Linked DNA regions of Homo sapiens. The protein of the gene in region 1 purifies or fractionates together with the protein of each later gene. This does not show direct contact. Each region holds a gene or a part of one and is shown on either strand. Other genes may lie near its edges.

The links.
Region 2: the proteins of KCNK7 (region 1) and SLC44A1 purify together in Homo sapiens (affinity purification with mass spectrometry; one large-scale study listed by BioGRID and IntAct). This does not show direct contact.

The regions. Positions count from the first base shown.
Region 1 is NC_000011.10:65,592,881-65,597,448, reverse strand, and holds the start of KCNK7 (potassium channel subfamily K member 7), read left to right. Parts: upstream 1-1,648; 5' UTR 1,649-1,676; coding exon 1,677-1,995; intron 1,996-3,574; coding exon 3,575-3,973; coding exon of another isoform or gene 3,974-4,029; exon of another isoform or gene 4,030-4,065; coding exon of another isoform or gene 4,066-4,106; exon of another isoform or gene 4,107-4,238; coding exon 4,239-4,444; 3' UTR 4,445-4,568. UniProt on the Homo sapiens protein: Probable potassium channel subunit. No channel activity observed in vitro as protein remains in the endoplasmic reticulum. May need to associate with an as yet unknown partner in order to reach the plasma membrane.
Region 2 is NC_000009.12:105,250,952-105,254,760, forward strand, and holds part of SLC44A1 (choline transporter-like protein 1), read left to right. Parts: intron 1-3,809.

The DNA.
Region 1 (4,568 bases):
TGCCTGTAGTCCCAGCTACTCTGGAGGCTGAGGCAGGAGAATTGCTTGAACCTGGAAGGTGGAGGTTGCAGTGAGCCAAAATCACGCCACTGCACTCCAGCCTGGGCAACAGAGCAAGACTCCGTCTCAAAAAAAAAAAAAACAAAAAACCATAGGCCGGGCATGGTGGCTCACGCCTGTAATCCCAGCACTTTGGGAGGCCGAGACGGACAGATCACAAGGTCAGGATTTTGAGACCAGCCTGGCCAATATGGTGAAACCCCGTCTCTACTGAAAAAAATATATATATATACAAAAATTAACCAGGCGTGGTGGCAGGTGCCTGTAGCCCCAGCTACTTGGGAGGCTGAGGCAGGAGAATAGCTTGAACCCGGGCGGCGAAGGTTGAGTGAGCCGAGATTGCACCACTGCACTCCAGCCTGGGCGACAGAGCGAGACTCCATCTCAAAAAAAAGAGTAGTAAGTTCCACCCACCTCCCAGTATGGTGACTTGCCATGGCATCTGGCACCCCTGACAGTTCTCTTCACACTGCCATGGGGGCTCTGGCACTCCCACACCATACCCTAGGGCAGGGTCCCTCCCTCGGCCTCTGTCCATTCTCTTCACACTGCCATGGGGGCTCTGGCACTCCCACACCATACCCTAGGGCTGGGTCCCTTCCTTGGCCTCTGTCCTCAGCCCCTCTGACGTTAGAGGAGTTGGAACCCAGGCTCCCCCTTCCCCTCTCCCAGGTGCCCCATGGCAGCCCAGACTCTGTGTCTGCAGTTCAGGGGCAGGGAGTCAGGAGGGCAGGCACAAAGCGTTCTCAGGAAGAACTGGCAATCGGGCGCAAGGGTATCATCTGCCCGGGTGCTCTGGGCACCCTGGAGTCCTCTCCCCACCTCCCACCCCCACCTGATCCTTCCCAGCTGCCACCATTCCTCTCCCACCACACCACCCAGGCCAAAATCACTCCATCCATGACGCCTACAGTAGCCCAGCGTAGGTCTCCCTGGACCACATTTATCCTCAAGGGCCTGTGTCCTTATCCCCCCTTCACCCCCAACTCTCCCCTGCCACAGCCAGCCCTCTGTTCCTCTCACACCCCAAGCTCATTCCTACCTTCACTGGCCTCTTACTCCCCAGCTGAAATATCACCTCCTTAGCAGAGCTTTCCCAGTGAGATAACCCCCCCGCTCCCCGCAGAGCTCTCCCATCACCCAGGGTGTTTCCTTCATGGAACTCATGACAATGTGAGGTTGCCATGTTTCTTTGCTAAGAGGTTTCTTGTGTAAACACCAGGAAGGAAAGGACCTGTGCCTGTCCTCTTCCCTAAGCACTTGAATGAATGAATGAATGAATGAATGTGGTATGGGTGCCTGAGTGAGCAGGACCTTGAATAAGTGTGAGGTCCTCTCTAGGCTTCAGCTTCCTCCGCCTCCTCCCCTCACCGCAGCCGCCTTCCTCCACCCATCCCCACCATCCCAGCTGCTGTGAAATGGGCAAATGTCTTGCCTCCAGGACCTGGGAAGGGTGATGCAGCTCACCTCCCTCCTGTTCACACCCCAGCCACCCCAGCCATCCCAGCCGGGTCCCAGCCACCCACACAGCACCTCCTCCTGGCCCCGCCCTGCCCAGCCCCTCCCAGGTGCCTGAGGTGGAGCCGCCAGTTCCCACAGCACCCCAGCGGCCTGCCATGGGGGGTCTAAGGCCCTGGTCCCGATACGGGCTCCTGGTTGTGGCCCACTTGCTGGCCCTGGGGCTTGGGGCTGTGGTGTTCCAGGCCCTGGAGGGGCCTCCTGCATGCAGGCTTCAGGCTGAGCTCAGGGCAGAGCTGGCAGCCTTCCAGGCAGAGCATAGGGCCTGCCTGCCACCCGGAGCTCTGGAAGAGCTGCTGGGCACTGCCCTGGCCACCCAGGCCCATGGGGTCTCCACCCTGGGCAACAGCTCAGAGGGCAGGACCTGGGACCTTCCCTCAGCCCTGCTCTTCGCTGCCAGCATCCTCACCACCACAGGTAAGAGAGCCAGGCAGCCAAGTCGGGGGGTGCGGCTCCAAGAGGCCATGGCTCCCTGGGGGCTTTGGGGTTCATGCAGCCCTTCCTTCAGCCCCAAAGAGCCAGATGGAGCCCAGGCCCTGTGAGGCCTGACATCACAGCTGGGGCTCCCCACCAACACACCCCAACTGGTGCCTCCACTTCAACTGCCAGGAAGGGTGTGGCCTCCCCAGTCCCACCCCAGGCACCCTTTGAGACCCAGGAGAGCTGCCCAGATGCCACAGCCTGTGGCCAGATAGGGGATACAATACAGTGGGATGGATTCTTGGATGGAAGCAAATAGAATGAACCTGGGAAGGACAGATCAGGACCATGGCCTCGGGTGGGGGAGTGAGGGAAGATAGGGGAGGAAGTCGGCATGAGATGCTTGTGGATCAGGAGGGCACAGACAGGGATGAGGGAGTCCTGCAGAGAAATCGCGTGGGCACAGGCCCAGGGAAAAGCAGCAATGAGACCCACAGCCCTGGGTTTTCGTATTTTTTGCCCCACAAAGTGTCTCAGTATTTTTTGAATTGGAATTTGTATTTCCAACTTTTTTTTTTTTTGAAACGGTGTCTGACCCTGTCACCCAGGCTGGGGTGCGGTGGTGCGATCTTGGCTCACTGCAACCTCCACCTCCCGGGTTCTAGCAATTCTCCTGCCTCAGCCTCCTGAGTAGCTGGGACTACAGGCATGCACCACCATGCCCGGCTAATTTTTGTGTTTTTAGTAGAGACGGGGTTTTGCCATGTTGGCCAGGCTGTTCTCAAACTCCTGACCTCAAGTGATCCACCTGCCTCAGCCTCCCAAAGTGTTGGGATTACAGGTGTGAGCCACTGTGCCCAGCTCATATTTCCAACTTCTTTTGGAAAATCAGGAAACCCACTCACACTGAGCCAGAATCCCTGCAAGGCAACATCCTGACTGGAGCAGAATGGGGCCTGCCCTTTGGATACAGCTCACACTTTCCAGTGTACCCCTGTCCCCACCACTCCTGTTTGTCTCCCATCTGGCTCCGGTAGGCATGTGCGTTTGCAGCTCTGTATTAGCTGATCCTGTTCTCCCAGCACACCCCGCACTCCCACCCCTCCCCGCCTGGCACATGCCCTCTCTCGCCCATGCTGCCTCTTTGCAGCCCTTCATGATTTGCCTGCCCGACTCCCCCACCAGAAGGGGCAGGGCCTGGGCTGATTCAGATCCCAGTACAAAGCCTGGCACACAGGACATGACACACATTTGGGGAAAGAGTGGATGATATTCCACCAGCTGTGGAATCGGGAGTATCTGTTAAGGGCAGCGCAGTTCTCAGAATTGTCCCAGCTACAAAAGGCCTGAGGAACTGTCTTCTTTCATCCTTTCATTTTCCAAAAAAGAAAAGAATGGCCTAGAGAGGGTAAGGGATCCCCTGACGAAGAGGAGCAGAGCCAGCTAGAACCTGGGCCTGGCCAGTTCAAGGCCACCAGAGGGCAGCCTTCTGCGGAAGGCAGTATTGGGGTAGGCAGGGACCCCAGCAGACATGGCACTCAGAGCTCTCACTGTCCACTGACTCTCTCTTCTCCAGGTTATGGCCACATGGCCCCACTATCGCCAGGCGGAAAGGCCTTCTGCATGGTCTATGCAGCCCTGGGGCTGCCAGCCTCCTTAGCTCTCGTGGCCACCCTGCGCCATTGCCTGCTGCCTGTGCTCAGCCGCCCACGTGCCTGGGTAGCGGTCCACTGGCAGCTGTCACCGGCCAGGGCTGCGCTGCTGCAGGCAGTTGCACTGGGACTGCTGGTGGCCAGCAGCTTTGTGCTGCTGCCAGCGCTGGTGCTGTGGGGCCTTCAGGGCGACTGCAGCCTGCTGGGGGCCGTCTACTTCTGCTTCAGCTCGCTCAGCACCATTGGCCTGGAGGACTTGCTGCCCGGCCGCGGCCGCAGCCTGCACCCCGTGATTTACCACCTGGGCCAGCTCGCACTTCTTGGTAAGTCCAGCCACCTAACAGCGTGTGGGGGAAGGGGGAAGAGGAGCCTGGACTAGGACTCCCATAAATCACTGGGGGGCTGGGCCTTGCAGGTGGAGGGACCTCACTCCAGGGCACGGCGTGGGAGGGGTAGTCGAAGAGCTCTGGTGGCAGCGTTGAGAAGGGGGTGAGTGGTGCCAGTTGCCAGGGCAAGTCACTGCGCTGGGAGGTGGGCGGGGAGCATCACCAGAACCCAGGCGCTGCCCCAGCACCTTCTCCTCCCCAGGTTACTTGCTTCTAGGACTCTTGGCCATGCTGCTGGCAGTGGAGACCTTCTCTGAGCTGCCGCAGGTCCGTGCCATGGGGAAGTTCTTCAGACCCAGTGGTCCTGTGACTGCTGAGGACCAAGGTGGCATCCTAGGGCAGGATGAACTGGCTCTGAGCACCCTGCCGCCCGCGGCCCCAGCTTCAGGACAAGCCCCTGCTTGCTGAAGCGTCAGGTGACCGAGTTCAGCTCCGTAAGGTGGCGGCACCTGAGGAGGAAGCAGCCAGGAGTGGCTGGGGAAGAATCTGGAGATGGAGCCGCGGTGAGGGTGGGCGGGAGGCCTCAGAGGAT
Region 2 (3,809 bases), on another chromosome or scaffold:
ACTTTTAAAAGTTCCCCTGGTAGCCCTCGTGTGTCACCAAGTTTGAGAGCCACTCTTCCTTACCCTTTCTCTAGGTAATTTCATCCCTCGTATGGCTTCAGTTACAGTCTGTATGTTAACAGTTCCCAAACTAAATTACTGTCCTGGTCGCTGATCCTTATATCCAACTGATTAATTAGCATTTACACTAGAATATTGTACAGGCAACTCAAACTCAGCATGTTTAAATCTGTCCTCAAAATCGTACCCCTCACCCCCGGCTTTTTCAGTACTTTATCTCTGGTTCACCGAATGATACCAATGCCCTGGTTGTGGAAACTGGAGACTCGAGTCCTGTAGGGAACCTGCCTCTCACTCTTCTATATCTAGTCACCACATCTTGCCTCTTTGACCTTCTCAACGTCACTGCCAGCACTCCGGTTCAAGCCTCTGTCATCTCCAGCCCAGTACCTTGGTTACAGATCTCTCCGTAACTGTTCATGCTCCCTTCTAATTTTTCTTCGTATTGCAGTCTTGGTGATCTTTGAAAAATCCCAAGCTAATTGTGTTCCTCTCCTACTTAAAACCCTTTAATGGTTTCCCATTGCTCTTAGGACAAAGACCAGAACCCTTGACCCTGGACAACAAGACCCTGTGTGTGGCTGTTCTCCATCTCTCTATAGGGTCACCTTGTGGTGTGCTTTTCTTTGCTCATTGCACTGCAGCCTCACAGATTCTTCAGTTGGTTGTATTCCTTCCTCTTAGAGGGCTTTTGCATATGTGGTTCACTTGTCTAGGAGGCTCTTTGCTTTGCTCCCTGGCTTTTGGCTGGTTGCTTTAAGTTTCAGTCTGAAAGTCACTTCCTTGGAAAAGCCTTTTCTGATCCCTTCAAACTAGGCCATGTCTCCTCATTAAACTCTCATAGCCTTATGTGTTTTCCCTGTGAGCACTTAAAGCAGTAAACACGTAATTTTACAGTTAATATTAATGTCTAGACTAGGTGGCGGCAAACTACAGCCCATGGGCCAAATCTGACCTGCTACCTGTTTTTTATGGCTTACGAGCTAAGAATGGTCTTTACGTTTTTAAGTGGTTGAAACAAATCAAAAGAATATGATTTCATGAGAAATTTATTTAATAAATTATGAAATTTTAATTTCATTCACAAGGTTTTATTGGGACACAGTCATATTAATTCATTTACTTGTCTATAGCTGCTTTCATATGACAGTGTCAGAGTTGAGTAGTTGTGACAGAGGCCTTATGGCCTGCAAGCATAAATATTTACTCTGTGTCCCTTTACAGAAAATGTTTGCTGACCCTTGCTCTAGGCTGAGTTGATGAAGAGAGGGGCCGTGTTTGCTTTGTTTATTGCCATCTTGGTGCTTAGCTGGTACCAATACATGGTAGGTACTCATGAAATATTTGAATGAATTAACAGATATTCTGTTTCCCTCCATGGATAGAGGTGATTGAACTCCTACCTTAGAACACTGGGGTTTTAAAATTCATTATAAGAATTTTAAAACGATTCTTCTTTGGAAGACTCTTAACAGCATGTTCAGGGCTCTCTTAAGCAGCTTGTCTGTTGAAGGTATACATGTCACGTATGGAGCAAGTATACTTATAAAGGTGTAAGTTACTGGGTCAAGGTGGACAGGAAAGGGCTAGTGCGCTCAAGTAATGGACCAGTCAGATTTACAGTGGTGATGTTTTTATAGCAGGCACAAATGGGTGAGACTTTATGGCAAGCGTTGTAAAGAAAACGTGTTTGAGCTGGTGAAAAATTTAAGTCATTAAAGAGTTAGACATTGTTATCTCTGCTGTGGGAATTCACTCTGTGAAGATGGTTAAAGTTTTTGACACAGTAATATTTCCTCCTTTTTGATACTTTTTGTTTTCTAATTTATTTGGAATATAGCATAGCATAATGTTCCAATTTTGAATTTATGCATTGTGTAAAATTTAGTAATTTTTTTGGCAATTTAAAAAACAGATTTACATTTTTCAGTATGTTTTATTATACTCAATAGAGGGATGCCAGTTTTTCCCCTCTGGGGGACTCCTTTGTAATTGTATAATATGATAATGTTGTATAATAGGATTCATTTAACAAACATTTGGTTGATAAACCCCTGGAATTTATTTTTTTGTGAAAATATTATTATTCCTTTTAGTTACTCTCTACAATATCCCACAACCAGATATTTAGACTTATTTAGTAGGAAAACCCTTAAAAGCAACTTTTATTCAAATTTTTAAGGTTGCCAGAAATGCTGAAAATTATTAAATGGAAGTGTTTGACTTCTGGATATGTTTATAATATGTAAAGTAAAAAAACCAGCAGGAAGATGGAAAAATTGGAAACATGATTACTTCAAGATATTTAAGTAGCAGGGAAGGTATTAAAGTTTGTTTGTTTTTGTAGATTTGTGATAATATAATCATGATTATGATCTCAGAAAATTCTTCATTTTGAACTACTTATGATGTTACAGCTATAAGAAATAAAAAAGGCTGGGTTTGGTGGCTCACACGTATAATCCCAACACTTTGGGAGGCTGAGGCAGGAGGATTACTTGAAGCCAGGAGTTCTAGACCATCCTGGGCAATATAGTGAGACCCATCTCTACAAAAAATAGCAAAACAAATTAGCCAGGTATGGTGTCGTGTGCTTTTGGTCTCAGCTACTCAGGAGGCTGAGGTGGGAGGAAGATCTCTTGAGTCTGGGAGGTTGAGGCTGCATTGAGCTATGATCGTGCCTGTATTCCGGCCTGGGTGGCAGAGCCAGACCCTGTCTTTATTTTTTTTTGAGACAGAGTCTCGCTCTGTTGCCCAGGCTGGAGTGCAGTGACACAATCTCAGCTCACTGCAATCTCCGCCTCCCGGGTTTAAGCGATTCTCCTGCCTCAGCCTCCAAGTAGCTTGGACTACAGGTACCCGCCACCACACCTGGCTAATTTTATGTATTTTTAGTAGAGATGAGGTTTCTATGTTGGCCAGGCTGGTCTCGAACTCCTGACCTTGTGATCTGCCTGCCTCGGCCTCCCAAAGTGCTGGGATTATAGGCGTGAGCCACTGTGCCTGGCTGAGACCCTGTCTTAAACAAAGAAACAAACAAATAATAATAATAAAAAAAACCCTTAAATCCAAATAGCTAAAACATTAAGGAAAATTGATTATCTCCTATAGGTCAAGGGGTAGGGTAGCTTTCAGGTTGGTTAGTTCAGTGGCTTGATGTCAGCAAGGACGTAAGTTCTCTCCTTGTTTCTTTTTTGTCATTTTACGGAAGGTAGCTTTTTCTTAATTAGCTCCCCTCAAGATCCCAAGATGGCTATGGCTCTTCTTACCGTCTTTTGCTGAGCTGACAATCTCCAGTGGTTTTCCTTTCATGGGAATTAGAGAGGGCTGCACACTTATCCCTAAACAAGCTCTAACAAGAGGAAGGCAAAGGACTCTGCAATTGATTTAGAGTAACCAGGACTTCCCTCTGAGTCAAGTGAGGGGCAGGGCAACACCGGAACAAAAGGAGGACTTTGCCAGCAAGGTGGCGGCAGGGATGCAGGATTGGGCGTGGTGACTGGGTAGGCAGCCAATACTATCTGCTATGGTTTTGCCATTTTCTTTTGTCTTTAAATCAGACTTCTATAGTGTTTCCTAACATTTTACTTATAGCCCCATTATGAACTTCACAGTTCGTAGTTCAAAGTCACACAGTTAGTTATCTTCTTGTCCTAGTGATGCTGCTCAAGCCATTGCTGAAACCCCTGTCTTTCTTTTTTGCTCACCCCCACTGCATCTTTCCCATTCTGAGCTAAGGACAGCTTCAG